Linked DNA regions of Homo sapiens. The protein of the gene in region 4 interacts with the protein of the main gene of each other region in a pairwise test. Each region holds a gene or a part of one and is shown on either strand. Other genes may lie near its edges.

The links.
Region 1: the proteins of LRRC39 (region 4) and MYH2 interact in a two-hybrid assay, tested with the Homo sapiens proteins (one study listed by IntAct).
Region 2: the proteins of LRRC39 (region 4) and MYH6 interact in a two-hybrid assay, tested with the Homo sapiens proteins (one study listed by IntAct).
Region 3: the proteins of LRRC39 (region 4) and MYH1 interact in a two-hybrid assay, tested with the Homo sapiens proteins (one study listed by IntAct).

The regions. Positions count from the first base shown.
Region 1 is NC_000017.11:10,519,118-10,526,450, forward strand, and holds the end of MYH2 (myosin-2), read right to left. Parts: intron 6,760-7,333; coding exon 6,576-6,759; intron 6,500-6,575; coding exon 6,334-6,499; intron 6,232-6,333; coding exon 6,107-6,231; intron 5,949-6,106; coding exon 5,640-5,948; intron 5,553-5,639; coding exon 5,349-5,552; intron 4,768-5,348; coding exon 4,642-4,767; intron 4,550-4,641; coding exon 4,379-4,549; intron 4,296-4,378; coding exon 4,191-4,295; intron 4,069-4,190; coding exon 3,973-4,068; intron 2,316-3,972; coding exon 2,163-2,315; 3' UTR 2,031-2,162; downstream 1-2,030. UniProt on the Homo sapiens protein: Myosins are actin-based motor molecules with ATPase activity essential for muscle contraction.
Region 2 is NC_000014.9:23,380,178-23,385,276, forward strand, and holds the end of MYH6 (myosin-6), read right to left. Parts: intron 4,865-5,099; coding exon 4,739-4,864; intron 4,541-4,738; coding exon 4,265-4,540; intron 3,144-4,264; coding exon 3,048-3,143; intron 2,386-3,047; coding exon 2,251-2,385; intron 1,887-2,250; coding exon 1,863-1,886; 3' UTR 1,810-1,862; downstream 1-1,809. UniProt on the Homo sapiens protein: Muscle contraction.
Region 3 is NC_000017.11:10,500,630-10,509,951, forward strand, and holds part of MYH1 (myosin-1), read right to left. Parts: intron 9,027-9,322; coding exon 8,856-9,026; intron 8,044-8,855; coding exon 7,734-8,043; intron 7,328-7,733; coding exon 7,257-7,327; intron 5,471-7,256; coding exon 5,383-5,470; intron 5,301-5,382; coding exon 5,183-5,300; intron 4,883-5,182; coding exon 4,759-4,882; intron 4,671-4,758; coding exon 4,534-4,670; intron 4,437-4,533; coding exon 4,181-4,436; intron 2,620-4,180; coding exon 2,377-2,619; intron 2,286-2,376; coding exon 2,109-2,285; intron 1,283-2,108; coding exon 1,137-1,282; intron 1,056-1,136; coding exon 965-1,055; intron 871-964; coding exon 481-870; intron 124-480; coding exon 1-123. UniProt on the Homo sapiens protein: Required for normal hearing. It plays a role in cochlear amplification of auditory stimuli, likely through the positive regulation of prestin (SLC26A5) activity and outer hair cell (OHC) electromotility.
Region 4 is NC_000001.11:100,167,188-100,176,509, forward strand, and holds part of LRRC39 (leucine-rich repeat-containing protein 39), read right to left. Parts: intron 6,184-9,322; 5' UTR 6,144-6,183; intron 1,408-6,143; 5' UTR 1,330-1,407; coding exon 1,217-1,329; intron 1-1,216. UniProt on the Homo sapiens protein: Component of the sarcomeric M-band which plays a role in myocyte response to biomechanical stress. May regulate expression of other M-band proteins via an SRF-dependent pathway. Important for normal contractile function in heart.

The DNA.
Region 1 (7,333 bases), on a different chromosome or scaffold from region 4:
CTTATTCATTGTCAAATCATTCCACCGGCACTTCGGACTTGCTCCGAAATTGCATTGCCTTCCAAACAGAGATGTCCTGCTTCTCTCATTTTTTTTTGGTGCCCAAGTTGCTTGTGAAATCTTGTTTCCTCTATGAAACTCAACATAAGAAAATATTGGAAACAGGGTATTTCTCTGTCTAAATATGCAGCATCGATGATTTTTCCTCTATCAGCAGTCCATGGGATATATTTAGTATTTTGCTTACAAACAATACCTGAATATTGTTTTCTATTTTAATTTTTTAAAAAAGTTTATTTTACTGTCTTTGTGGCCTCACGTCTCTGTCTGTCAGCATTGTCTGGCTAGGACTGGGACAACATTTGCTTAATATACCTGGTTTTGCACCCACATCTGTATTATTGTACTTATATCTCAATTGATTTAATGGCTATAGCTTGCCTTATGAAAGGAGATATCTGGATATACTAGTTGTAAAGGTCACATAGTTTTATTACCATAAGGGATCATCTAATTCATCTTTCTCATTTTACTAATAAAGCAACTGAGATCCAAAAAATAGAAGAGAATCTCCACAAATCACACAGCAGTTTAGACTCTGGTCATCTGACTTGCGGTCCAGCGTACTCACTTGTGACACTCTTCTACCTGGGGTAGATTAAAGCCATCAGGAAGGGTATTGCAGGGATGTGCGTCTGAGAGGGCCTTTCCTAGCCATCTATTAGCCTGCTTTGTTACCACAGGTACCTAATTTTACTTTCTTACATGTCTGTTTCTTTACTAGGCACCTGCAAAATGTGGGTAATGATTTTCAGGAAGATAAAACATTTTAATAATGCTCTCAATAGGATCTGATGGGAATCTTCAGACAACCTTTTGTCTTGCTCTGGATAAACTTTTCAATAAGTAGGAAGTAAGATATTGTTTTTGTTTATTACTGCCACGTTATAAAGCACTTAAGCAATTCCACGTGATACAGGAACAAAGTGAAAGAGGGGCTTATGCAGCGAGAAGAGCAATTCCACACCCTTTCTAAGGCCAGTGCGACAGTGTGAATCCAACTTACCTGTTAAACTACCATGTCTAATTTACATCATTTTCACACAGTGCCATTTAGACCAAGATACTCTTGCTTTCTATTTGATGGGAAGTTACCATTTAGCTCTTCCTTTATTCTGTCGAGGAAGGTTATATTTTTGGCTATGCATCTCAGCTGCATCCAGTTTAAAAATCTTGATCCTCTAGGAAAACGTCTCTGAGTGGTCCAGATTGCTATGATATCTACTTTTTGTACCAAACTCATACCCATCATTATGTGTGTTGAATATAGATTTGAATAACCTACTTTGAGATCATATTTTCTTGACACTTTTAGTCATTTATTTTGGCTCTTTATATGATTATCTGGGAGACCATAAAGATTGGAAACATAAGCTAATAGCTCATGGATACTACATTATAACGTAAAAATAATATTCTCTATGTCTCCAGATTTGATAGACACCCTGTAGTTTTCATAGGGAGAAGAGTCATATTTAATTTAATTTTGAAACTTGCTTCGTGAAGAACAAGGTCGTGTCAAACCCATTACCCAGTGCACCTACTGTGGGCATATGGTACATTGGAATTGATAATGTAAATATCCATGGGCTAATTAAGAATATTTTGTATTTATATTCTTGATAACAGTTATTCAACAAAGAGAATTAATGATACAATTCAGTTTGAATCCCCTATGTGAGAATATAGCTAGTACTATCCTGAAAAAGGTTCATGTTAGGGGAAGCAGGAGCTTTCTAAGATTTTACTGTACTCAGATATCAGGAAAGGTTAGAAAGAAATAAAATAGACTTCCAAATTTCTGTTCATTAGAACAGTCTTTCTGGATAAGTGACATCTTTACAGCCTTAAAGTGTTGCCGTAGACCCCCAAAAAAGTCACCAATTGAATGTGATTGTTTGACAACTCTGGTGACTATTCAAACTTTGACATGGCTTCAGGAAAGAGAAAAGACAAGACCAGTCTAAGGATATTGTTTGCAAACTACCCTATGCTTTATTTCCTTTGCAACAGGGTAGAATACACAATAATTACAGAGGGAAATGACCAAAGATGTCACATTTTGTGCCTGTCTTCAGTCATTCCATGGCATCAGGACATGATCACTCTTCACTTATGACTTTTGTGTGAACCTCCCGGCTCTTCACCCGCAGTTTGTTCACCTGGGACTCAGCAATGTCAGCCCGTTCCTCGGCCTCCTCCAGCTCATGCTGGAGCTTGCGGAATTTAGCTAGATTGGTGTTGGATTGTTCCTCCTGAGAATAAAAATGGAATTGTAAGGAACTCATACTTGCATCTTTCTAGACTCTTTAGACCTAATAGAAGAAAGGACTTGGCATCTATGGAGAAGCAACATCTAGGGATTATCATTGAAATTAATTTTAAGATTTGTTTATTGATGTCATATATATATATATATATATACACACACACATACATACATACGTATCTCACATTCCTATTTTGGCAACCAAAACACATAAAATATATGTACCACAAGTAGAATAAGAAGAAAAATATAAGCTTAGAGAGGAAGGCAAGAATATTAAAGTCATAGTTGTTAATGCTTGCTATAAGATGATGATTTTCCCTTGAGTTAGATTTTTTTTATCATATTAAGAATGAACTTATTAAGTTTTTAAAAATTGAAATAAATATTGGATTTTGTCATGTATCATTTTGGCACATTTCAAAATGGTTACTTTTTTCCTCCTGCATTGGATGTAATGATTCTATTGACAGATAACCTAATATTAGGTAATCTTTACATTGTAAGAATTAACCTTATTTAATCACTGGAAGACAATTCCTTTAATAAAGTAAGACTTACTACTTAGTAATTTATCTTTGCTGTAACTGTCTTTATGAGTAAAATTGCCTTTAGTTTTTCTCCCTCTGTCCTCTCTTGGGCAGGTTTTGGTATGAGGGTTATGTGAGCTTCTTAAAATGAACTGGACAGCTTTCTATCTTTTCCCATGCTCTTGAACAGCTACATAGCTGGGGGATTATCTGTTCCTTGAAATTTTGAAAGACCTATCTGGACTTGGGTCCATTTCCAGAAGTAATTCAGCCAACTTAGTAATTTATATCCTCCTAGAAAAATCATCAATTTTTTTCAGGGTTTCAACTTTATTGATAGATGTGTTTTATATTAAAAAATAATCCTCTATGTATATAGCTTATTCCCTTTCTCATTTCTAATGTTGTTTATATTTTCTCTCTTATTTTCCTTGATGAAACTAGTTATAATACATTTATTTTATTAATTCCCCAGAAGTTACAAATATTACTGAAGTTATCAAATAGAAAATAGTATACTCTAATTCACCAATTTCTACTTTTATTTTTAACAGTACTTCTTACTTCTACTGTTTTATTATTATTTATAATTTATTTATTGGACTGTCTGTTTGTTTATTTTTACTTTTGGTTCATAATGAAAGCATTTAAAGCAATGAATTAGCCTCCTAGCACAGCTTTGACTACATTCTGTAGGTTTGTAAAAGTAGCATCTTCCTTGTGATTTTACTTATAATTAATAATTATTTAGTAATTATGTTTTTATTTTTACTTTAAACCAAGAGTTATTTAAGAAAGTTAGTTTTTTTAATATTTAAGTACTCAAGAATTTTTGCTTATATTTTGTCATCACTTTACAACTCCGTCATACTGTGGCCGGAGAATATGGCCTGTATTATTTCTGCTTTTAATTTTTTTCAGGATTCTTGGTGGATTGAAAGTTTACTTTTAAAATGAAGCTACTGATATTACAAATGATACACAAGAATTATTGTACAAAAACAAATGTTAAATATGCATGCAGTAGTCTTTAAAGCAAACAGCTTGTTCACTACAAGAAGTAGTAATTATTTATTAGCTTAATTTGAGGACTTCAATCTTAAAAATACTTACAGCCTCCTCAGCTTGTCTCTTATAAGATTTCACTTTTGCCTGAAGTTTATCTACCAAATCTTGAAGCCTGAGAATATTCTTTCTATCTTCTTCCGTCTGAAAGATTATAAAAAGTCCAGGACCTTAATTACTAAAGCACATGACTATTGCATCATTGCATATGAGTATTTCACATAAACTTCGACCAGTGCTTAGCCGCTAAAAACTACTGGCTGTACCTGGTAAGTGAGTTCCTTCACTCGCCTCTCATGTTTGCGCAGACCTTTGACAGCCTCAGCATTACGCTTTTGCTCACTCTCAACCTCTCCTTCCAGCTCCCGTACCTGCAAATAAGTAGGCTCTTAAGAACTTTGATCCAATAAGGCACTGAAAGCAGATGGAAATAGACAGATATTGGGAGACCCACCCTGGCCTCCAGTTTCTGGATCTGCTTCTTCCCACCCTTCAGGGCCAGCTGCTCAGCCTCATCCAGACGGAGCTGCAGATCCTTCACGGTCTGCTCCATGTTCTTCTTCATCCGCTCCAGGTGGGCGCTGGTGTCCTGCTCCTTCTTCAGCTCCTCAGCCATCATGGCGGCCTAAATAGCAAATAAATCAAGAAAACCAAGAAAGTTATAGATGTCAGGAAATCTTACTGCTAAATCAGTGGACAAGTGTGCCTGCCACTCACATCAGTGATGGCCTTCTTGGCCTTTTCTTCTGCATTGCGGGCTTCCTGGAGAATGTCCTCCATCTCTCCTTGCATTTGGGAAATATCTGTCTCCAGCTTCTTCTTGGTGTTGATCAGGCTGGTGTTCTGTTTAAAAAGAATTTGTACATTTAAAAAATTGTGTTACCAAAGTATTTATTGGTAACCACTTCTTGAAAAAAATTCAGATAAAAATTTGCAAGTCAAAAAATGCCTTTTAATATTAAAGAATTAAAGGATTGTGTTATGTAATATGATTAAATAAAATATAAATGTTATAGAATATTCAGCATCTTCAAGTGTATAGGTCACAAGCAGACCAAGTAGCTCTATAATTTTATAATTATCATTTACCAATAGACCATTCACAGGGATAAAAGTATAATGGACTTTCTCATAACATTCCATTTCTCCAGAATGAAATGTGAATATTGATAATGAGGGCCAATAAAGATATTAACACAATAGAATACGGGGGCAGCCTTAGAATATTATATGAAGCAAATCAACAATAGTTTTTCAAAGCAAAACAGTGAAAGATTTCTCAGTAATGCAGAATTACTATTCTGTATTATTTGAAAAGAAAATTTGATAGACATATTAGGTCTAGCTGTCTTATGAAAACTCAGGCTTATCTATTCTGGGACATATAAAATTTACTAAGGAGAGTTCTTTGTGCTGAATCCCACCTGGGTGTGCAGTAGCTGAACACGCTCACTGGCATCCAGGAGCTCCTGTTCTGCGATTTTTCTGCTCCTCTCTGTCTGTTCCAGAGTGGCCCGCAGCTCCTCGATCTCAGCCTGCAGCAGGTTGGCTCTGCGCTCCACCATGGCCAGCTGTTCCTTCAGGTCCTCCTGGCTCCGGAGAGCATCATCCAGGTGGATCTGGGTATCCTGTGAAACAAACCATCATTGAGACATCATGTTCTCAGGGTTGCAGGCACCCCAATAGTCCTGGGACCATCTCTTGGACATATTTACCTTGAGGATGCCTTGGGTGTTCCTGTAGTTCCTCAGGGCCTCAGCAGCCATGCGGTTGGCATGGTTCAGCTGGATTTCCATTTCATTGAGGTCTCCCTCCATCTTCTTCTTGAGCCTAATGGCATCATTCCTACTCCTGATCTCAGCATCCAGCGTGCTCTGCATGGACTCCACGATTCTAATGTGGTTTCTCTTCAGCTGGTCAATTTCCTCATCTTTTTCAGCAATTTTCCTATCAACCTCAGACTTGACTTGGTTCAACTCAAGCTGGATGCGCAGGATCTTTCCCTCTTCATGTTCAAGAGATGCCTTAATGACAGCAAGAGGTGACATTAGCAAGGAACCAAAAGCTTTATGAAGTTTTTCTGCACAGCAATAATTTTGTGCTATGTGTCTTTTTATTCACTCTATGCAGATGTACCTAATTATTTTCCAGATTTTTTTATAATGCACAATTTTACATGTACCTCTGCTTCTTCTAAAGCAGCCTGAAGTTCACACTTTTCTTGTTCCACTTGTTTCTTTATTTTCTCCAGTTCATGGATACGTTTCCCTCCTTCTGCAATCTGTTCCGTGAGGTCAGAAATCTCCTCTGTTGTTTGAGTAAAAGACAGGTAGGGATTTGGTTAAACATGTGACATAAGGGAGAGATTCTTCCAAGTTATGAATATTATTGAATATGATAGGGACTTACGCTGTAAGTTTTTGTTCTCTCGCTTCAGGGTTTCTAGCTGATCCAAAGATTCCTCATAGGCATTCTTTATCTTGAACAGCTCAGTGCCAAGGGAACGGGCCTCCTTCTGGGAGGCCTCAAGCTCAGCATGCGTTTCCTCACATTTCTGTTTCCATTCTGCCAGGATCTGAAAAACCAAGACCTGTTACCTGCTGCAAAGACAAAAGAGTAGAGTAAAGAGCAGAAGATGCTGGAGGAATTACCTTATCGAAGTTCCTTTGCTTTTTGTCAAGGGCGGCACAGGCGGCATTTGTCCTCTCCACATCAAGCATGAGGTCCTCGACCTCATTCTGCAGCCGCTGCTTCGTCTTTTCGAGGGAAGCACATTTGGCGTTCACAGCTTCTACATGTTCCTCAGCTGCCTGCAGCCGCTGGGCCAGCTTCTTCCTTGAATATTATACATGTTTTCAGAGAGAAGTGAACCATAATATGAATTATGAGCTATTGCCACACACGCTGAAGAGTGTTAGAAACTTCACATTAATGCTGCCCAGCCACCTTTCATTCTTTCAACAAATATTGATGAGCCCCTTTTATGAACCAGACACTGGCTACGCAGCAGTGACCAAGACAAAAAAGATCTCTGCTTCATGAAGACCACAAACAAGTGAGAGAGGTAAACAATAAGCAAATCAGAACATCCGTAATAATACCTTACAGATACAAGTGCAATGAAGCAAAATAAAATAAATGGTGGGCAACTACTCTAGATATTCAGTGAAGGCCTCCATGAAGAGATATTTGAGTCAAGAGCTAAAAGTCAGAGAGCCAAAGGGAAGTCTGTGGAGAGGGTATTTCAGACAGAGAGAAAAGCAGGTACAAGCCCCTGATGCAGCGATGAGCTCATTGTGCTTGACAAACAGCAATGAGGCCCCTAATTATCAGTGTAATTATTTGCTCTTCTTTGTTTTCTTAACTAGATTTTAGGATCGTAAGGCAGGGACCATATTTGATTTATTCA
Region 2 (5,099 bases), on a different chromosome or scaffold from region 4:
ATCAGAGGAGGGAGAGATTTCCCAAAATGCGAATGCTGGGAGAGCCGTTGATTATCAGCTGGTCCAATGCCCTCATTTCACATAAGAGAAAACAGGCCCAGCCAGGGGAGGTGAACTCATTTGTGACAGAGCTAGGGCCAGAACGCAGCTCTTCTGACACCTAAGCGAGTGTTCTGGATACTGTACTGAGCCTCCTTGTAGCTCAGAAAAGAATGGCCAACTCTTCCCTCCACTGCGGGTCCACCCTCCCAGCTTGCCAGCTCCTCAGCACACATTTCCTGAGCATCTCCCATGCACACTGTGCTGGGTGCCAGGGCCTCAGAGGTGACGGGGGGCCTGCCCTTTAGCACTCACAGGCTGGGAAAGAGACAAGCTGGTCAAGAGCTCCCCACAGTGAATGCTATGGGAAGGCTCAGGGGAGTTTGGAGCAGACACTGCCACAGCCCGGGAGTCAGCCCTGCTGGGCCGAGACAGACAGATGTGCAGCCAGACGTTCCTGCCCAGCCCGAGGAGCCCAGCATGGCCTGGCTCAGCAGCTCCATCCCAGCTGACGTGCTATCTCCTGTCGCTGATGTGTGTGTGTTCCCGCCCTGAGATACAATCCTTCTTCTGGAGCGCTCCTTCCAGCTGCAGGCCCCAGCTCCCAAGTCCTGCCCGAACCCTGGATCTTGAACTCTGGTCAGAGCGCTCTGCTTCCTTGGTGGCAGCCACTCCTCTCTCTTGGTCTTTTTCCTGCCTCCTGCTTCCTGTTCTCCTATCCTTGTGTCCTGGCTCACCATCAGAACTGGCAGCCTCTCCTGGGCTAGAACCAACAGGATTTTGTGTTTCTCTGGTCACTGCTCACATTTCTCAGGGCTTTATGCACAGTCCATTCTCATGGTCTCAGAGGAGGGATAGAAGAGGCTCCACTTGGGGAGTCAGGGAGATGGGGTGCCAGGTGAACGGTTAAGGAGGCGGTCAGCAGAGCCTGGCTGCAAAGCCCAGTGGGGAGTGGGGATTTGCTTTGTGCAGAACGGGGTCAGGACCGGGCCTGTCCCACAAGCAGCTGTGTGATCCAGGCCAGACTGTCCCCAGTAGGAGCTTAGAGAGAGCAGAAATGTGACCACAGTGTTTCCCTGTACAGGCACCTGTGCCATCTGTGTCTGTGTGAGAACCAACATGAAATGAGCAATGCCCAGGCTTGGTCCTCATGGCATATTGGTTTGGGCTCAGTGTTGATTGGCCCCAGAGTCTCAAGATGCCCTCACGGTGAGGTGCTGAATCATAGGAGGCAGGGGGAGACCCCTGGGGAAGACAGGGAGGGGGCTCCCTGGGAGTTACTTCCTAGGGGCTGACTAGAATGGAATCTCTCCCATCTCCTTTCCCATACCTTAATTCTCAGCCAGCTCTGAGCCTTTTCTGGCATTGGTGGAAAATTCATTTCAGAAAGAATGGGTGTCCTAGGACACCTTTAATCATTGCAGCCTCAGGGGTGGGGTAGGTGGAGAGTGGCTTCAACTTCGGCACCAAAATTCTATCTCGTAGCATCTTGGACTGGCTCACCATTTTGATGCCATTGTTTTCTTCACTTTTGAAATTTCTCCCTCTCCACCCTTGTGTGGTTGACTGAGCAGAACTGGGACTCACAGCTGTCCACGTCAGGCAGAACACCTCACTCCTCTGCACCTCGGTCTCCTTCCTTGTGGATATGGGATGCCTTGGCTCTGGCAGCTCTGATACAGGGGCTGGGGGCCTCCCTCCTCTCAGGCCCCCTACTGCCCTGATCCAGGATGGACAGCTGGCAGGAAGGACAGATGGGCTCAGGCAGAGTTTGGCACTCATATTTATTACAGGTTGGCAAGAGTGAGGTTCCCGAGGCAGTGTCACTCCTCATCGTGCATTTTTTGCTGCAAAAAGAATAAGAGGTGTGAGGGGGCAGCTGGCAAGAGGGAGAAGTGTGTGGGGACAAATCCCTGGGGCTTTCAGAGGCCTAAGGGAGATGCCCTTGGAGGGAGAGGCAGGGCCCCAGGGATCCTGTGGTCCCACGTTAGAGGCACTTGTGGTTTAGGGGGATGGAACTGGGGATCTCTGCAGAAGTTCCAGTCAGTGGGGGGCTGTTTTGAGCAGGAGAGTGGATTCTCAGGTTATGTAAGCTATGGGACCCTCAGAACTGCCTACATATAGGGCAAGCAGTGCCCACTCTGAAGGGCACCCATATCAGGGGGCATGCTAATGTGGAAGTGACTAGTGAAGCCCAGGGGAGGGACCCACCTTGGCACCAATGTCACGGCTCTTGGCTCGAAGCTTGTTGACCTGGGACTCAGCGATGTCCGCCCGCTCCTCTGCCTCATCCAGCTCATGCTGCACCTTGCGGAACTTGGACAGGTTGGTGTTGGCTTGCTCCTCCTGTGGTGGGACAGTGGGGATGGGTGAATGAGCTGGAGATGGGCTATGGGATTCTCAGCCTCTCAACCTGAGGTTCCAGCTCCCTGTCCCTGAGGCACCCATACCTCATGCATATTCCTGCAACAGCCTTCCCAAGGGTATCCTGCAACTGCCTTGCACTCTTCTCAAACATGTCCAGCACTCAGAGTCCTTCACGGCCATCCACTGCCCCAGACAAATCCCATGCTGCCCGATCTGGGCCCCTTCAGAATCCTGTTTTGCTGCACCTGTCCCGGACCCCAGCTTCCTGTGCAGGCATGCTAATCAGCAACTCACATCCACCCAGATGTCTTCCCCACTGCCCTGTGGCTAGCTGGGTCCCCTTCTAGGCCCAATTCCACCGCCACCTTCCTGCCTTCAGCTTCGGCTGCCCCACGTCCTGCACTAGCATCTACACTGCCTTCTGTTGGGTTATGGTATCTGAATTGTAAGCAGCTTGTAGGTGGTGCCTTTGTTAATTCAGAACACCTGACAGCTCTGAGCATACCAGATGTGTCAAACAAATGTTTGAGAGTTAAAGTTTATAGCAAACTCTTTGTCCAGGCCCCTCTGTAGGAGATATTCATTGGTTCTCACAAATAGTAGGTGTGTTGATGAGAAAGGGAAGAAAGCTCTGAACTCACCGCCTCCTCGGCCTGGCGCTTGTAGGCCTTGACCTTCAGTTGCAGCTTGTCCACCAGGTCCTGTAGCCGCAGCAGGTTCTTTTTGTCTTCCTCTGTCTGGGGGTGGGAGGGTGGGAGAAGCTGGTTTGGAGGGGGAGCAAATGCAATCACCTTTCCCTCCTCCATCATTTTACTCTTCTCCCCTTGCCTTTGCTGCCCCTCCCTGCAATGATCCAGGTCAAAGAGGTGGTGGGGAAGATTCTCTGACTCTATCGTAGGTCAAAGGGGCAATGCAAGGTTGTCAGTCAGGGATCCACAGAGCAATGAAGGCTGAAGTCATAAAGCTAGAAGTAGGGGGAGGGGCTCAGAACCTAATGGAATTCCCTAATGTGGTAATATAAAAGCACCAGGTCTGTTCCAGCTCCAGTATGGTGGATAAAGCTCCAACCTGGACTTACATAGGTTCTCTTGGCCAGTAGTTCTTGACCAGAAAAAGAATGCAGAAAGAAGGGGGTATTATCATAATCCAGATTATTCTACATTCTAATATATTGTACTGGGCCAGAATTCAGGCATCGGGATCACTGGCTCCAACGTCACTCGATCATTCCTATCTCTTTATCATTGTATGTGCCAGGATGCCATTTCTACTTCTGTCCACAAATCACTCTGTGGTTCTGTATCTGTAACCTCTTTCTTGTGCCTCTGGTATCCATCTATCAAATGGACTGACACCCTCGTCTCCTTGGCCTTTTCTTCCCAGGTACACTGAAAATAACGGGCCAAGGGCACAGCTCTCAGCTATGCAAGTGGAGGTTTTAGAGCATTCTAGGGTCCTCTTTCTCTGTGGCCTTCTCTTTGTGTGCCAGAAGTTCTATGGAAGATTTCCGGGTCTTTTCCCCTCCCCTGACTCTTATCCCCACAGTCGAAGGTGGAAGGATTCTTTGAACTGTTCTGAAGTCTTCATGGTAGCACTTAGAGTTATTAAAAAAAAAAAAAAAGAAAGAAAGAAACCTGGGGAAAGACTAGTTAGAAGAGTTTTCAGGAAGTAGAAGTAGATTCTTCATTTGCTGGAAAAACTCATAGACTCAAGTCAAACTGACTGCAGAGCGTGAGAAGAACGTTAAATCTACCAACAGCATCTCAAGGAGGAGGTGAGAGGAGCCCTGTGAGGGCGGGGCAGTGGGGCCAGAGAAGAAACTTCCACATCTACTCCTGGTGTCTGGCGTCCGCCGCACCTGGTAGGTGAGCTCCTTGATGCGCCGCTCGCTCTTCCTCATGCCCTTCACCGACTCTGCGTTGCGCTTCTGCTCGGCCTCCAGCTCACCCTCCAGCTCCCGCACCCGCGCTTCCAGCTTCTGCAGCTGCTTCTTGCCTCCCTTGAGGGCGATCTGCTCGGCCTCGTCCAGCCGGTGCTGCAGGTCCTTAATGGTCTGCTCCATGTTCTTCTTCATGCGCTCCAGGTGGGCGCTGGTGTCCTGCTCCTTCTTCAGCTCCTCTGCCATCATGGCGGCCTGTGTGCAGGAGAGAGGTGGCAAGGAACATGGGCCAGGGGCCGGGGCCTTTTGCCCCCCAAGGATCTCCTTTCTCCCATCAGGCCCTCAAATCCACAGAACTGCAGAGTTGGCTTGGTGTTACAGCACAGTGGCCTGGCCTGGACCCAAGGCCTTGTTTCTGTCTTTAGGGGAGGCGGAAGGTGGGCGGTCACTTACATCCGTGATGGCCTTCTTGGCCTTCTCCTCGGCGTTTCTGCACTCCTGCACTGCCTCCTCCACTTCCGACTGGAGCTGGGTCAGATCCGACTCCATCTTCTTCTTCTGGTTGATGAGGCTGGTGTTCTAGACATGGAGAGAGAAAAATGATCAAATATATACTACACTTTGTTACCTGATTTCATACCCTTTCTCCAGAAAGAATTAAAGGTGGTCATTTTTTTTTTAAAACAACAAGCCCACTTTTAGACTATTGATCGTTTTGTACCTGCTTTCCCTTTTCCTATGAAAGTGCATACATTCTAGACATTGTATCTAAGATTACTAAACTCTGAAAAAAGACTTCAAATAGCAAAAGGTC
Region 3 (9,322 bases), on a different chromosome or scaffold from region 4:
TTCTGTTTGCAGGCGCGCTCTCTGTGCTGTGAGGTCATTGATCAGCCGCTGCTGCTCCTCTTCCTTGGTCTTAATTTCACTCAGTTGATCTTCTAGAGCGCGGCACATCTTTTCAAGGTTTCCCTGCATTCAAAAAGTGGTAGAAGGCATCTCAAGTAAGTAGTTGGACCAAAGAAAGTTTCAGTAATCTAAACATTCCATATGAGCTGCAGTACTCATTTATTTTGAGAAGAAACTATCTTTACAAACAAAACCAGCAAAGGTCTTAGATAGTGAATGGAAAGACTAATAAGATACATAGTCCAAGCATACAGCCACTGAATTACTTGTTAATCTAACTACTTTACTAAGTTGTACTATACGTGATATGAGAAAAAGGGTGCCTGATTTAGTTCATGAGACGTTTTTGAGATACAAATCATATTTGTGCTAAAGGGAAAAACAAAAAACCAAATAATCAATGTGAAGTGTTGATTGTACCTTGGCTTTGGAGACAGTCTCCATGTTACTAGCAAGGTCATCGATCTCCATCTTCATCTCACTCTTCTCCTTCTCCAGCTTCTGCTTCACTCGCTGCAGGTTGTCAATCTGCTCCCCAAGCTCGGCCACACTATCTGCATGCTTCTTCCTCAGGGTGGCCGCCGTGGCTTCATGCTGTAGGGTGGCCTCCTCCAGGTCCCTGCGCATTTTCTGGAACTCAGCCTCCCGCTTCTTGTTCATCTCAATCTGGGCTGAGGTGGCCCCACCGGCTTCTTCCAGCCTCTCGCTGATCTCCTCCAGCTCCCGGGAGAGATCAGAGCGCTGCTTCTCTGCTTTGGCCCGGGAGGCCCGCTCTGCCTCGATTTCCTCCTCCAGCTCCTCAATGCGGGCCTGGGAATGGTGAAAAATATTAATACGAACTCAACTTCTTGGTGTCAGTAACTTTTCGATGTTAAATTAGCCTGGCGAAAATCATTTAACGTACTTGTAACTCCTTGATTTTCTTCTGCAGCTGCATACCAAGGGCTTGTTCATCTTCAATCTTGCTTTGCAGACCGCTCATTTCAAACTCTTTCCTATTAGAAAAGCCCTTTATGTCAGTCTCAGAAATATTAAGAGTAATTTCCCCACAAAACTGTTGACCTAAAACTGCTTACTTTTTAAGCTTTTCATCAAGTTGTTGTTTGTCATTTTCTATATCCATTGTGGATTCTTGAGCCAATTTTAGGTCTCCCTCTAGTTTTCTCTTTGCTCTTTCTAGATCCATCCGGATTTTCTTTTCTTGTTCCAAAGATCCTTCAAGCTAAAAGTTAATAATCCATGAATATGGTTCTTAGAATGGTAGCACCTTTTGTCCCAGATGAAATTTTTAAACATTATATCTATGCAGCAAACTATTTTTCTATGAATTAGGCAGATTTGTCCCATTGATTCCATTCTCCTTGGTATTTACCTAGTCGAAAAAGTCATCGTTTAAAAGGTAAAATGTGCCTCTTTGTCACGTTGTTACAATAAGTTACTAGTGAGACATTATGCCTTCTGCATCTCCCCACTGGAATCCAATACTTTTCCAGCTGGGATGGACACCATGCTAATACTTCCAAACCATGAACTTTTTTAACGCCTCCCTTACTCAGGCATTTTCAGTGGGTTCTCTATTAGATATCAGATCATGTTTAAAGCCAAATTTATCTTCCACATTCCTAATTCTGAGTGTCCTTTGTTTCTGTGAGAGAAAACCTTATTGATCATTACAACTTCTTTGCTGCTGCTATGCTGCCTTCTTAGAACACCCTCCCTCTTCTTTCTTTTTGCACATAGCCCCTTGTCTTTCAAGCCCAGCGAAAGACCTGTTTTGCTTGTATAGCTTTTCTTTGTGAACACATTAACCTTCCTTTCCATCAATTCTTTTTACCCGTATTGTCTATTATTCACAGTTAACTTTCTTTATTGATTTTAAAAACTTTATTGTGTGTACATCTTAGACCTTGTAATAGGGATGATGTTCCATATTCCTCATTCATAGGAGGCACTTGATAAGTACTCACTATATCATAACGACACAAACTTATGCTTACTTAGTTTGTTACAAAATTTAAAAAATCATTTTTATATAATGTTAGGCTTACATCATCCACTTGTTGTTCAAGTTTGATTTTAGCTTTGGTCAGGGTGTTGACTTTGTCCTCCTCTGCCTGCAGGTCATCCAGGGTCTGCTGGTGGGCCTCCTGGAGAGCCTTCTTCTCCTTGGTCAGCTTAGCAATGGTTTCATCCAGACCCGCCATCTCTTCTGTGAGGTTTTTCACCTACAAAGGTGAAGAAAGCAGCTTAGTTGCTCTAAAGCACCTTTGTTGGGTGGCAGAACCTCTATACAGTACTGTAGAATATGATTGATACCTTGTTTTCTGTGGCATGTTTCTCCTTCTCAACCTTGGCCAGTGTCAGCTCAAGGTCATCAATGTCTTTCTTGAGTTCTGAACATTCATCCTCCAGTTTCCTCTTCTTGGCTGTCAGCTCAGCATTGATCTCTTCCTCATCCTCAGCTCTCTCAGTCACCTCTTTGATTTTGGCTTCTAGCTGGATTTTGGTTTTGATTAGCTGGTCACACCTTTCCTCTGCATCAGCCAAGCTGTCAGCTTCCTGAGAAGAGGCAATAGATATTTTAGATTTTATGAAAATTCCTAGACATTTTCAGATTTTATTAATATTTTGAAACCAAACAAGTAAATTGTTTTAAGCCTTCAGGTTAATTTTTATTAGCTTTCTACCATTCAGTAAATATTGGGCACTTATGAGTCCGGTAATAAAAAAAGGAACTTAAGTCATAGTTCCTGGTGAAATTATGTTACAATTATATTTGTTATAACATATATAATATGTTGGTATATAATTTCGGGTCAGCCAATTTTCTTTATTTAATATTTATTTTCAGGAGCATTCAATATATGAAAAACCAATAGACAAAAGGATTGGGTTTCTAGCAGGTTGCTGGGAGAGAAGGGTACTATCAGAAAAGTGCCTTAACAGGAAGAAATGTCATCCAGTGACAGAGTAGACAAAGGGAATGGAACATGTTCAAGGTGATGCTTAGAGAAGTAGCAAGCATATTTCTCATAAGAAGAAATAGGAGTTGAGATAAACTGTGAGGGAAGGACCATGTCTCTCATTCAAACTTACATCCCTGTCCGGGACTTCACCCAATATTTATTAGTGGATAGTTGATAGAATATTGTTAAACAGAAGTTTTATAATACTATCCTCAAAGGAGAGGAGTATTCTTGGATAGATTATCTCCTGTTTCTTGAAGGCACGATGAACCACTCCTCAATGTGGAAAACCCTGATCTATACAAAGTACAGGAAAGTCACAGTACCAACCTAGGTATTTGCAATTCATCATACTTTAGATTTTCTAAATATGTGTCCCAAACTTGTAGGCACAATGGGACTAGTCAATTCCCTTTCTGAATTCAGAGAACTGGGATGGTAACTTTTAATGTTTCTGCTGTTGGTTTTGGTGGCAGCAATTGAACTGTCTTGTTATTTGTGTTACAAAAATGGGTTAGATAGTGGCTTTTGATCAAATATTTCTCTCCAAGCCTCTGGATAGTTACTGGGACATTAGAATAAGAATATCAACCCTATCTCTCATACTTTGCATAAAAATAGACATTATCTGTGGAAGGCATTGCCATTATCCTTACAGAAAGCATTGCCATTATTCTTGCCATAATCCTACTCTTTCAGGTACTAAAAGTTTCTAAAAATAAAGTTGAGCACAAAGTTGCTCGGGGATTGTAGATACAAAACTCAGAATATTGATTTCAAGTTAATGTGTTTTCATCAAAGTCTCCTTCCTCTTCACTGACAATATTTTTCTTTTTCACAGCTCTTATTTGCATTTTTCAGTAGGGAGAATTTAGGGAGCAAAGCTCACTTTATTTCCTGTTCACATTCTGCTGTAGAAAACAACAGAGGGGAAGGAAAAATGCTTTTATTTTTCCCTTCTTGACATCAAAGAATCCTACCACAGTGATTTTTAGTAATATTGTATAGGGAATTCTATAGAACATTCTAAGGAGTTGTGGATTATTAAAGATTCATAATCTGTCCCTTATTTGGTAGAATCTAGATCTCTCCTTAGTGACCACTGAGCTGAAGTTTTAGCATCAGATTGCAGGAAATGACTTCGGGATACTCACAGCTTGAACCTGGAGTTGCAAGTCATTTTTTTCTTGCATCAGAGTAACCATTTTTTCTTCCAGCTCTTTCCTTTTTGCCTCGGTCTTAGCCAGCTCTTCTTTGGTTTTCTCAAATTCTTCCTTCATGTTGGCCATCTCCTTCTCTGTCTCTGCACTTTTGAGGAGGGGTTTGATCTTGAAATACAGCTTCATCCAGGGCCAGTGCTTCACATTCATGAAGGCACGGACATTGTACTGGATGCAGAAGATGGACTCTCTGTCATAGGAACAGAAATGTCCAAATCAGATTATAATAAGAAGCAGAATTAAAACACCTAAGATGATGAGGTTAAGTAAAGAATTCTTATTAATACCTTCTTTCCACCATTTTCTGGTACTCCACTCTTGCCAAGAACCCTCTGCACATGGCCTGGGTTCGGGTAATCAGCTGGGCCAGCTTCTCATCTCGCATCTCCTCTAGGAGCCCCAGAAGACCAGCTTTGAAAAAGACCTATGTGTGGGAAGAATTTCAGATCAGAAAATTTACATAAAGTTCAAAGGGACAGGAATAGCATCAGGTAGGATTTACAGAATATTACCTTGGTGTGACCAAATTTATACTGGGTGTGGTCAATGTCAATGGACCCCAGGAGCTTCTCTGAAGCCTTCTTGCTATCGATGAATTGTCCTTCAGGGATAGCACTTGCATTTAACACCTTGTATCTGTTTAAGCCAGACAAAAAAATGATATGGCTGTTGCCACAGACAAGAAATCTTCCTGTCTGGCTATAGAAACAACATAGCCACTGGGTAATCTGAAATAAACAAGAAATCATATCTACCCCTTTATCTATCCTCTGTTTATTCAAAGGACTTCAGAGTTTTCTTATGTCAATATGGAGTTTGTTAAGTGAGTTTATCTTCTCTTCAATTTTAAGAGGAGGTATAAAGGATTCTTTCATTGAAAAATGTTTAAAAAGTAATAAAAACCTCTTAAAATAATTTACAGCAAAAATGTCTGACCTCTGTTTGAAGTCTGCATAAAGGATTCTGCTTGGGAAGCCTTTCCTGCAGATGCGGATGCCTTCCAGCACACCGTTACACCTCAGCTGATGCAGGACAAGCTCATGCTCCATGGCACCTAAAAGAATGAATCCACATGCCATACTTCGTGGTCTATCACACACACACTGGAGCTTGTCTGGATATCAGAAATGTCTTACCAGGAGTTTTAGTTTCATTGGGGATGATGCACCGCACAAAGTGGGGGTGAGTGCTCCTCAAGTTGGTCATCAGCTTATTCAAATTCTCCTGTGGAACCATGCGAGTTTATACTTTAAAAAATGTACTGTTTTCTACATTCATATTTATAGACATAATTATTGAGATCTATGACAGTGGTTTAATTCTAATGAATAGTATCCAGATGAAAATTTTCAAAGAGTTATCTCTGGAATTTCCACATTCCTAATATGTCCCCCTGTTTTCTGTTGGTGTGCATTAGAAGCATAGTTTTCTACTTGCTGTTGAAGTGACTGTTCGCTGCTGTTTAATTTCCTAGTATATGTTTTAAATTCACTATGACACTCTAAATATATGGAAATACTCTACCCATTCTTTTTTTGCCTAGATACATGGTCTGATTTTACTACTAATCAATGCCTTCCTCTAATTCTCCCACTTTTTTCTTTGTCTTTTCTTCTTCTTCTTTTTTTTTTTTCTGAGATGGAGTCTTGCTCTGTTGCCCAGGCTGGAGTACAGTGGCGCAATCTTGGCTCACGGTAACCTCTGCCTCCCGGGTTCAAACAATTCTCCTGCCTTAGCCTCCTGAGTAGCTGGGATTACAGGCACATGCCACCACCCCCAGCTAATTTTTGTATTTTTGGTAGAGACGGGGTTTCACCATGTTGGCCAGGCTGGTCTCGAACTCCTGACCTCAAGTGATCCACCCGCCTTAGCCTCCCAAAGTGCTGGGATTACAGGCATGAGCCATGGTGCCCAGTCACACTCACTTCTTTCTTTACCTGACTTTCACTTGTATCTGTGTGTCTATCAAATGTGTATTCCTTGCCATAGATATAGAGCTGTGTCCTCCTACTTATTCCACAGAAAGTGGCCTTTATTAATGCCTATTCTGGGAATTGGTAGAAAACTGACAGCCATGTTACCAAGCGTGTAAAGTTTTCCATCTTTTGAAAATCCTGGTTTTTCCGAATATCTACAGCATCAGTTATTAGAGATGGAATCAGAAATGGGATTGCCAAAAGAAAAATAGACTTTTCTTTTTTTCCTTGAGATGGAGTCTTGCTCTGTCACCCAGGCTGGAGTACAGTGACATGATCTCAGCTCATGGCAACCTCTGCCTCCTGGGTTCAAGCGATTCTCATGCCCAGCCTCCTGAGTAGCTGGGATTACAGGTGTGCACCACCATGCCTGGCTAATTTTTATATTTTTGGTAGAGATGGGGTTTCATCATGTTGGCCAGGCTAGTCTCGAACTCCTGGCCTCAAGTGATCTGCCTGCCTTGGCTTCTCAAATTGCTGGGATTACAGGCGTGAGCAACTGTGCTTGGCCGTAATTTTTTTAAAAGTGCTATTTATTATCACATCTGGTTTCTTATTTCCTTCTTTTGACTCAGGCTCCAATTCCCACCACTGTTCTATCTTATAGCTTTCAAAATCTACTCATTTCGGTTCTATACCAATGTATCTTTAAGCACCTAAATCACTTGGAGGCTCCCAAAGCCTCAAGCAAGTCTCAGCTTTACTTAATCCTATCCCACTGGAGTCTTTTAAGGGTTAAATGACCTCATTCTCAGGCCCCAGAATCGAATTTTGCCGTCTAATACTGACTTCTGCAATTCGCTTTCATCTCTCCTGACTCCTGTGTCTTCTGAATAGTGAGGTATCTCTTCCAAACTATCCCCTCTTCCAAACTATCCTCAAGCTCCCTAAAACTCAGTCTTACCACTACCAGCTGAACTATCTCGTTGAGTCACATCAGTTCTAGAATCCTTGCAAGGTTAGTTTTTTCCCCCACACCATAGAGTACATTTAATATCCTAAATCTAATTAGACAGAGAAAATGAAGTTTGTACCCTGAAGAGAGCAGACACAGTCTGGAAAGAAGAACCCTTCTTCTTACCACCTTTCTTTCCACCGCCAGCCTCTGAGGGGAAAAAGAAAGCAATCATAGGACAGCCTTTCTCTGGTTATGGTTTTTTTTTTTTGTTTTTTTTTGTTTTTTTTGACGAAGTTTCACTCTTGGTTGCCCAGGCTGGAGTGCAGTGGCGTGATCTCGGCTCACTGCAACCTCCACCTCCTGGGTTCAAGCGATTCTCCTGCCTCAGCCTCCCGAGTAGCTGGGATTATAGGCACCTGCCACCATGCCCGGCTAATTTTTGCATTTTTAGTAGAGACGGGGTTTTGCTATGTTGACCGGGCTGGTCTTGAACTCCTGACCTCAGGCAATCTACCCACCTTGGCCTCCCAAAATGCTGGGATTACAGGCACCGTGTCTGGCCTCTAGTTATGTTTTATACATTAGGTAAAAGATTAATTATATTGATAATTACCTGCTTCCGCTCCCGTTGCCCCAACAAAGAGGAGAGCCAGAGTCTTCATTGCAGACTTCTGGTACAGCCCCACCACAGTCTCATTCAGGGGGTCCTTGTTCTTGTCAAGCCAGCCGGCAATGTTGTAGTCCACGGTGCCAGCATAGTGAATCAAAGAGAAGTGGGCCTCAGGCTTGCCTTTGGCAGGCTTGGGCTTCTGGAAGTTATTGGATTTTCCAAGATGTTGTTCATACAGCTTGTTCTTGAAGGAGGTGTCTGTCGCCTTGGGGAACATGCACTCCTCTTCCAGGATGGAGAAGATGCCCATAGGCTGGAAGAATGAAAAGAAATAAATGCCACTTGAATTCTGTCTGCTTATAGAAATAACATTTAACATTAATAATTATCCCATCTGAGTAAATTCATCCTTTAATTCTACAGAGTTAACGAAAACTCGTTCCTTTGGTCAGAAGTCATTAACTTCACAAATATTTATTGGGTGCTGATCAGGAGCCACGTGCTGTATCAGGCTCTGGGATATGACAGAGTAAGACAGATGAAGGCTGTGCTCCTGTGGAGTTTGTGTCTTTACCCCAAAGACCTGAGAGCAATATTTCTCCAAGTGTGACTTGCGAATTAGCTGCATCAGAATCACTTGCTCAAAATGAGGATTCCGATGTTTCATCCTACACTTACCAGAAAATATTTCTAGGGGTGAGACAAGGGAAACCTGCAATTGTACCAAGTATTCTTGGTGGGTCTTTCGCACACTGGATTTTAAAAGCCTCTGCTTTAACGTACAGTAGTAGAAATTCATACTTTGAATGCAGTAATAATGACTTTAGGATGACAAAAAACAGTAAGTAAAAAATATTCTAGTCAGTGCACTTTTTGTAAGGAAAGATGACTTTAAATGTAAGACTTTGTATTGCAAACTGTGGGTAAGTGTTGTGTTCTGGACTCTATAGAAAATATTTAATCTCCTTTTACCAGAATATCTACTTCAGAGTTGGCAAAATAAGGAATTCTCCTCATGTTTTTCACAAGTAGAAATATTTAGCCATTGCCTATATCAAGATTTTATGATTTTCTTTTAAATACTGTACAGCAGTATGATCTGTGGTCTGCAAAAAGCAAGCCAACCTTCTCGATGAGCTCGATGCAGGCAGCCAGGTCCATCCCAAAGTCAATGAACGTCCACTCAATGCCTTCCTTCTTGTACTCCTCCTGCTCCAGCACGAACATGTGGTGGTTGAAAAACTGTTGCAGTTTCTCATTGGTGAAGTTGATGCACAGCTGCTCCAGGCTGTTGAACTAAATGAGTTGAAAATACAAATTAGCATTCAATTTATAATGAAATCTTCTCTTTGAAAGGGGTGTTTTTTTAGTTAGCCAAATTGCCCTCTTAGGATGGTATCGTTTTGTCCTACCTATACCTACACAATGAAGTTTTTGCTGCTGTTAGCATACTTGTTAAAATTGTCTCTTCAACACCTGTCAACAAGCTCTGAATGATGCTTTCCTATGCAATAAAAAAAAGTTGTTTGGAGCTGGAGGCCATTATTCTTAGCAAACTAACGCAGGAACAGAAAACCAAATACTGTATGTTC
Region 4 (9,322 bases):
AGAAAAAAATAGTTTCCACTTTTCTGAAAACATAATGATCATTGGCTGTGATGCCTGGAAGTGCATCAGTCATCTTGTAACACTGAAGGAAGCTAATCCGAGGATCAGACTGACACAGGGATTAACAGTGGAAGGTGATTAAAAAAAAAAGCTGACTTTTAAAAGATGTTGAGGCTTTGCATTGACTATCTTCAGAACAGCCTCACTTCCCTATCGCCTAAACCATCTTTAGTTGAATTTTTTGTTATTTGCTAACTGACATCGGCAAATAACATTTGCTAATTTAATGTTTAGAAAGAGGCAATGGCCTGGCATGGTGGCTCATGCCTGTAATCCCAGCACTTTAGGAGGCCAAGGTGGGTGGATCACCTGAGGTCAGGAGTTCAAGACCAGCCTGGCCAACATGGTGAAACCCTGTCTCTACTAAGAATACAAAAATTAGCTGAGTGTGGTGGCATGCGCCTGTAATCCTAGCTACTTGGAAGGCTGAGGCAGGGAGAATCACTTGAATCTGGGAGGCGGAGGTTGCAGTGAGCTGAGATCATGCCATTGCACTCCAGCCTGGGCGACAGAGTGAGTCTCCATTTCAAAAATAATAATAATAATAATAATAATAATAATAATAATAATAATAATAATGATAGAAAGAGACAATGAATGAGAATTGTATGGAACTATATGCATCTATGAGGAAAGGGACTATTTTTGCAGGATTAGTAGAATACTTTTTGGTGACATCCAATCAGGAAAGTAGGTAAGATAAAATGGAGGCAGAGGAAATGAGAGTCAAATAAATATAGCCCAGATCAAGGAATCAAGTGATCCAGCAGCTCTGGCTAGAACACATGGCTATTCAAATAAATGAGAATCTACTGTACCTTCTACTGTCAAATGTTGTTTTAGGTCCTAGGGCATATAATGCTGAACATACAATCCTGAAAATTAGACTATATGATACTAATCAAACTTTGATGAATGTTAAACAGAGTCCTATGAGGGTATAAGATAGCTACCATTTTCACATTTGTATTTTTTGTGACTCCTATCGCATAGACAAATTTAATTGAGTCAGCTGTTTTCTTTAAGTATATTTTGAGTTTTCAGTAAATAAAATTCTATATCAAATTCAATAACAAGGCATTTAGAATGCTCTTTTTTATGGTGATGATAATATGAATTTTCACTAATTCAAAATAATAAATATGTTTTAGCATACTTGTGTTGAAATTCCTTCTCTCGCTTCAGGTCTTCATTGAGTTTCTTTATTCTTTTTTCCCAAACTTCCTTTACAGCATTGACAGCCCCAGTACAAACCACATTTTCTGTCATGATTTCTCCACATTGTCATAGTCACCAACTTCATTAGGTTTTGAATAGCTGAATCATAGATACCATTTCAGAAAGGACCTAAATGTACCAGAGAAAAAAAGCAATGTTTCAGACTGTTCATTGAGTACCATAATGATCATAATAGCTAATATTTATAGAACACATTCCATGCTCCAAAAACTATTTTATATACTTTACATGCCATATCATATTTAAAAACTCTCATAAAATACTATAATATAGGTACTTTTATTGACTAATGTATAGATGAGAAAATTAAGCTTTAAAGAAGGTGAACAATTTTCTTGGGGGTCTCATATCTAATATATGATTCCTTTGTTACTGTGTATTTCATAATAATGAAAAACTGCAACTAGTCTTCATGTCCAATTATAGGAAAATGGTTAAATAATGGAGATTTTTAAAAAGACTGGAATCTTGAGATATCAATCTAATCAGGACACCATATGCACAAGTAGAAATTCAGTTAAGTGATAATATATTGGGATTGTTTCCTTTTGTGTAAAATAAATTGCAAATGGATGACGCAGTATTAAGGATTTTGACCTGAATCTCAGAAATGAAAGGAAAATACTCAATAATAGGAAAATGGTTATGTAAATTATGGTAGGTACATTTTATGGAATATCCTATGGCCTTAAAATAATCGTACTGATTTTTGATCAAATTAGTAATAATAAAATAATTTGATTCACAATTATTTGAATTATTTCCTTTCAAATTCAGGAATGCAAAGACATTCACAATCACTTCTATTCAACATTATAGGAAAACCATAAAGGAAGTAAAGTAAATAGAAAGTAATGTAGTTGGAAAAGAAAGCAATAAAATTTGCAACAACATAGGGAAACAGACACTTTCCTTCATCAATGGTGGTATTATTATATTCTGTATGGAGAGAAACTTGGTAATACTTACTAAACTCACTAATGCTCATCCACACTAGCAATTTATCCCTCAAATATTTTTGAAGTTATTCGCAGTGTTTTTCATAACAGCAAAATATTGTAAACAACCTAATATTTCATCGGTAAACTATAGTCTACCCATATCATGGGAAATTATATAGCTCAAAAAAAAGAAAAGAAAGGTATCTTATATATTCATATGCCATGATCTCCAAAATATATAACTATCCCACAGTTTATCCATTCTAATGAATGTGAATATTTGGGTCCCAGAGCTTTGCTATTATAAGCAATAATGTTTCTAAAATTAATGTTTTTATCTTCTTGGTGTTCCAGTGGAATTATTTCTACTGGGTACATATCTAGAATTAGAATTGCTGGATCATAGTGTATGTAAATGTTCCAATTTATAAGTCAGAGCCAAATTGTTTTCCAAATTGATTGTGCCCATTTATACTCTTACTACCACTGTATAAGGGTCCCCGTTGATATACATCCATTACTGCATAAAGCCATATCCCAGGGTGGTCATAATTTGTACTTCCCTGATGATTAAGTGTTCCAAGTTAATATACAAAGGTTGTCCAGTTAAAGAAAAGACAAAATCCTGAGTGTTGTTTATGAGAGGCACACCTAAAAAATAAAGGTAGAGAAAAGTGGACAGTACAAGAACAGGAAAAGATCCACTCCTAAGTATATAGAAACAGAAATGAAAACATATGTTCTCACAAAATCCTGCACATGAATGTTGATAGAAACAGTATTCATAATAGCTAAAAAGTGGCAACAACACAAATGGCCATCTACTGATGAATGGATAAACAAGATGTGGTATATCCATACAATGGAATGTTATTTGGCCATAAAAATGAATGAAGTATAGATACATGCCACAGTATAAATAAACCTTGAATAAAATTATGCTAAGTGAAAGAAGTCAGACACAAAAGACCACATATATGATCTCATTTATATGAAATGTCCAGAATAGGCAAATCTGTAGATTCAAAAAGTAGCTTTGTGGTACCCAGGGGATTTGTAGAGGGGGAAATAGGGAGTGACTGCTAACTGTACAGTTTTTTGAGTGATGAAAATGTTCTAGAATTAGTGATAATGATTGTACAACTCTTGAATAAAACTACTGAGCTGTACACTAAAAGAGAGAATTTATATATGAATTATATTTCAATTAATTTTTTCTTTCTTTTTTATATCTTTATTTCTTTCGTTTCTTCCTTCCTCCTTCCCTCCCTCCATCCCTTTCTTCTTTCTTTCTTTGCTCTTTTGAGACAGGGTCTCACTCTATCACCCAGGCTACAATATAGTGGCGGGATATGACTCTCTGCAGCCTTGACCTCTGGGCTCAAGTGATCCTCCTGCCTCAGCCTCTCAGGTAGCTGGAAGTATAGGCATGTGCCACCATGTCTGGCTAATCAATTAAATTTTTTGAGAACTGAGGAAGATATACTATGCAAACACTAAGCAAAAGAAGGCTAGTATCAATATATTAATAGCAGACAAAATGGACTTTAGGCACAAATACTTTACAGATATAAAAGATCAATCATATCATAATAAGAGATTTAATCCACAAGAAATATAAAACAACTTTAAACTACATGCCTCTAATAACATGGCTTCCAAATATACAAAGGAAAATTGACAGAACTAAAGGGAAAAATCAAGGAATCCAGAACTGAAGTGGGATATTTTAACAATTCTTTTAGCAATTGGTTGCACAAGCAGTTTAAAACTTAGGAAGAATACTGAAAATTTGAACCACACAATGAATAAACTTACTTAAATGATAAATAAAGAACTATATCCTACAATGACAGAATACATAATGCTTTAAAAAACACATGGAAGAGTCACAGAAAAAAAATCTCATATTGGGGTCATAGAGCAAGTCTCAGTCAATTTCAAGGGATTAAAGTAGCATGAAGTTTTTATTCTAATCAAAATATAAACTTGCTAGAAATCAATAATGAAAAGATACCTGGAAAAAAAGCCTATATTATTTCAGCTAAAGAAACACACTTTTTTTTTTCTTTCTTCTTTTTTTTTTTTTTTTTGAGACATGGTCTCGTTCTGTCCCATAGGCTGGAGTGCAGAGGCGTGATCTCGGCTCACTGCAGCCTCAAACTCCAGGACTTAAGTAATTCTCCTGCTTCAGCCTTCCAAGTAGCTGGGACTACAGATGTGTACAACCATGCCTGGCTTGTTTTTTTTTTTTTTTGTAAAGACAGGGGTCTTGCTATGTTGCCTGGGCTGGTCTCAAACTCCTGGGCTCAAATGATGCTCCCACCTCAGCCTCCCAAAGTGCTGAGATTACAGGCTTGAGCTACTGCACCCATCCATGAAACACACTTCTAAATAACCTGTAGTCAAAGAAGCTATCATCATGAAATTAGAAGGCATTTTGAACTGAATTAACAAAAATACCACAAATCAAAGTGTATGGAATATAGGTAATGTAGTAGAGGGAAATTTCTAGTCTTAAGTATACATTTTAGAAGAAATGAGGCTAAAAAATTTACATCCATCTCAAGAAGCTAGATAAAACAAACACAAAGAAAACAGAAGAAAGGGAATATTATAGATAAACACACACATGTATAAAATTTTAAAATGACACAATAGAATACAATAATAATAATCTAAAATCTCTCCACAAACAAAATGCTGGTCCCAGAGATGACTTCAGTGGAAAATTCTACCAAGCATTTGAGGGGTAAAAAATAACACTAATCATAGAATGAACTCTTCCTGAGAATAGAAAAGAAATACTCCCCAATTCAGATTATGAGATTAGCATATGCTTGATACCAAACCCCAAGAATGGTAATTCTAGAAAGAAAAATACAGACTAATCTCACTAACAAATATATTAACAGAGAAAAGTCCTAAACCATATACTGGCAAACCATATCTGGCAATATAGGAAAAAGAAAATACTGGCCAGGCGCACTGGCTCATGCATGTAATTCCAGCACTTTGGGAGGCCGAGGCGGGCAGATCACTTGAGGTCAGGTGTTCAAGACCAGCCTGGACAACATGGTGAAACCCCGTCTCTACTAAAAAAATACAAAAAAGGCCAGGCGTGGTGGCTCATGCCTGTAATCCTAGCACTTTGGGAGGCCGAGGTGGGCAGATTGCATGAACTCAGGAGTTCGAGACCAGCCTAGGCAACACAGTGAAACCCCGTCTCTACTAAAATACCAAAAAATTGTGGCCAGGCGCGGTGGCTCATACCTGTAGTCCCAGCACTTTGGGAGGCCGAGGCGGGGGGATCACGAAGTCAGGAGATCAAGACCATCCTGGCTAACATGGTGAAACCCTGTCTCTACTAAAAATACAAAAAATTAGCCGGGCGTGGTGGCAGGCGCCTGTAGTCCCAGCTACTTGGGAGGCTGAGGCAGGAGAATGGCGTGAACCTGGGAAGTAGAGCTTGCAGTGAGCTGAGATCATGCCACTGCACTCCATCCTGGGTGACAGAGCGAGACTCTGTCTCAAAAAAAAAAAAAAATTAGGAGGTTGCAGTGAGCCAAGATCATGCCACTGCACGCCAGCCTGGGTGACACAGCGAGAATCTGTCTCCAAAAAAAATAAAAATAAAATAAATAAAAATAAAAAATACAAAAATTAGCCAGGTGTGGTGGCATGCACCTGTAATCCCAGCTACTTGGGAGGCTGAAGCAGGAGAATCGCTTGAACCCAAGAGGCGGAGGTTGCAGTGAGCTGAGATGGTGGCACTGCACTCCAGCCTGGGCGACAGAGCCAGACTCTGTCTCAAAAAAAAAACAAAACAAAACAAAACAAAAAAAAGAAAATACATTACAGCCATATTGGGTTTATTCCAGAGATTAAGATTTGTTTGCTTACCTTTGTTTGAGAAATCAATTAATGTAATATTCTGAATAGACTAGAAGAGAAAGAAAATATGATCATTCCAATAGATGTAGAAAATTATTAAAATTTAATATCGTGATTAAAAACAAGTCTTAACATACTCTAAGTAGAAGATAATTTATTTAACCTAACCAAGTATGTCTAATAAAAACCTGCAGCAATCATACTTGATAGTGTAACATTGAAAGCCTTTCATTTAAAATTAGTAAAAGATGTCTGCTCTCACTACTTCCATTCAATACTGTATCATGGCTCTACCCATTGCATAAAAGCAAGAAAAAGAAATAAAAGGCTTAAAGTTTGAAAAGGAATAAAAAACAAAAGGACATTTTTCATGAGTACAATTATGAACTAGAAAATCCAGGAGAATTTACAACTAAATATATAGAATTTAGCAAGACTTCTGACAAGTCAATATTTTGAAAAATCAATTATGTGTCTATATTCCAGCGGAAAATATATATTAAGTTCTGAAAAATATACTATTTTCAATAGCATAAAAATCAAATTCTTAACAATGAACAGAATATGTAAAACTTCTATACAGAAAACTAAAAATTAGAGTGAAATTAAAGAAGGCCTAAATAAATGAAGAGATATACATCATATTCATTGATAGAAAGACTCAATCTGTAAAAATGTCAATTATCCCCACATTGAACTATAATCAATCTCAATACAAAATTCATTTGGAGAAGGAGAGGAGCAACCTGACAATCAGTTTCTAATTTTTAATGACAATTCTAAGGATACAAAATAGCCCAGACACTCTTGCCAAAGAAAACTAGAGTGGGAGGATTTATTTTGCATTCATCAAGATCTCTTTTAAAGCTATGGTACTAGATAATGTTATTGGTGCAATAGAAAAACATACCAGTGTACCTGAATAAGGAACCCCAGAAACAGACTCATATACACATAGGCACTGCAGAACATTGTGGAAATTTTTTTTTTTTTTTAGACAGGGTCTGGTTCTGTTGCCCAGGCTGGAGAGCAGTGGCATGATCTTGGCTCACTGCAACCTCCACCTCCTGGGTTCAAGCCATCCTCCCACCTCAGCCTCCCAAGTAGCTGGGACTACAGGTGCACACCACCACACCTGGCTAATTTATGTATTTTTCTGTAGAGATGGGGTTTTACCATGTTGCCCAGGCTGATCTTGAACTCCTGGGCTCAAGTGATCTGCCTGCCTTGGCCTCCCAAAGTGCTGGGACTACAGGTGTGAGCCACCACACCTGGCCATGGGAATAATTTTTTAAGAGAAATTATATTGGGACAGTTGAATATCTATGTATTACCAAAATTAATTCCATGTGAATTGTAGATCTAAAAGTGAAAGTAGAAAAAATAAAGCATTTAGGTGACAATATAGGACTTATCTTGATGTCCTTAAAGTAGAGAACACTTTTTAAAACAGAATACAAAGCATATCCATAAAGGAAAAGATATACTATATCACAATATAGTTTGAATATATGTTCCCACCAAATCTCATGTTGAACTGTAATCCCCAACGTTGGAGGTGTTGGCTAGGTAGGAGGTGATTGGATCATGGAGGAGGATCCCTCATGGCGTGGTGCTGTCCTTGAAACAGTGAGTTCTTGGGAGATCTGGTTCTTTAAGTTTGTGGCACCTCCCCCTGCTCCCTCTTTTGCTCCTGTTCTGGCCTTGCGGGACGCAGGCTTCCCCCTTTGCCTTCCACCATGATTGAAAGCTCCCTGAGAAGCAGATGCCAGCACCATGCTTCCTGTAAAGCCTGCAGAACCGTGAGCCAGTTAAACCTCTTTTCTTTGTAATTTACCCAGTTTCAGGTATTTCTTTGTTTTGTGGTTTTTTGTTTGTTTGTTTTTTGTTTTTTTGAGACAGGCTTACTCTGCCACCAAGGCTGGAGTGTAGTGGCACAATCATGGCTTATAGTAGCCTTGATCTCCTGGGCCCCCTCTGCCTCAGCCTTCAGAATAGCTGGGACTACAGCAAGAACCAGTGTGCCAGTTTTTTTTTTTTTTTTTTGGTAGTGACAGGATGTCTCCACATTCTCCAGGCTGGTCTTGAACTCCTGGGCTCAAGTGATCCTCCTGCATTGGCCTCCAGAAGTGCTAGGATCACAAACATGAGCTGCTGTGCCTGGCCAGTTATTTCTTTATAGCAATGCAAGAACAGCCTAACACAGATTGATAAAGTGGACTACATTACAATTAAGAACCTATTGAAAGACATCACTTAGAAAATAAAAGGAATACCATGTACATTAGTGGGGGAAGATATTGGCAATATATATAACCACCAATGGATTACATCTAGAATATATAACGAACTCCTTAAAATCAGCTGAAAAAGGCAACAGAAAATACAATTGAACAGGAAATTTTCAAAAAATAAAATCCAAATGGTAGAACTTTCCCTGTGGAGAAAAAAAAATCCAAATGACCAAAAACAAATGAAGTTGTGCTCCACCTTAATAAAAACATAATAAGATACCAATGAACATCTGTCAGAATGGCTAAAATTCAAAAGGCTGATTATACCAAGTGTTGGTGAGAATTTGAGTTACAGAAATCCTCATGGACTCCTGGTATATTGGTGAAATTGTAAATTAGTATTAACTATTTTGAAATACTTATGTACTAATATTGAAGATAAGCACAGCTTATGATCCAGCAATTCCATTCAAAGGTATGTACCTAGAGGAAGGGTGTGTCTCCACCAGGAAACATGAACAAGACTGTTCCCAGCAATGTTTTACATGATAGTAAAAAAATTAAAAATAAAGTAAAACAATGTTTTAAAAGCAATAGCTGGACATGGTGGCTCACGCCTGTAATCCCAGCAGTTTGGGAGGCTGGTGGATCGCTTGAGGTCAGGAGTTCAAGACCAGCCTGACCAACATGGTGAAACCCCGTCTCTACTAAAAAAACATAAAATTAGCCAGGCGTGGTGGCACATGCCTGTAATCCCAGCTACTTGGGAGGCTGAGGCAGGAGAATCACTTGAACCCGGGAGGCAGAGGTTGCAGTGAGCTGAGATTGCACCATTGCACTACAGACCAGACAACAAGAATGAAACTCTGTCTCAAAAACAAACAAAAAAAAGGAATGGCAGTATTCATCCATTGAATTATAAAAATAGCTAGAATTAAGGGGGAAAAAACTGTG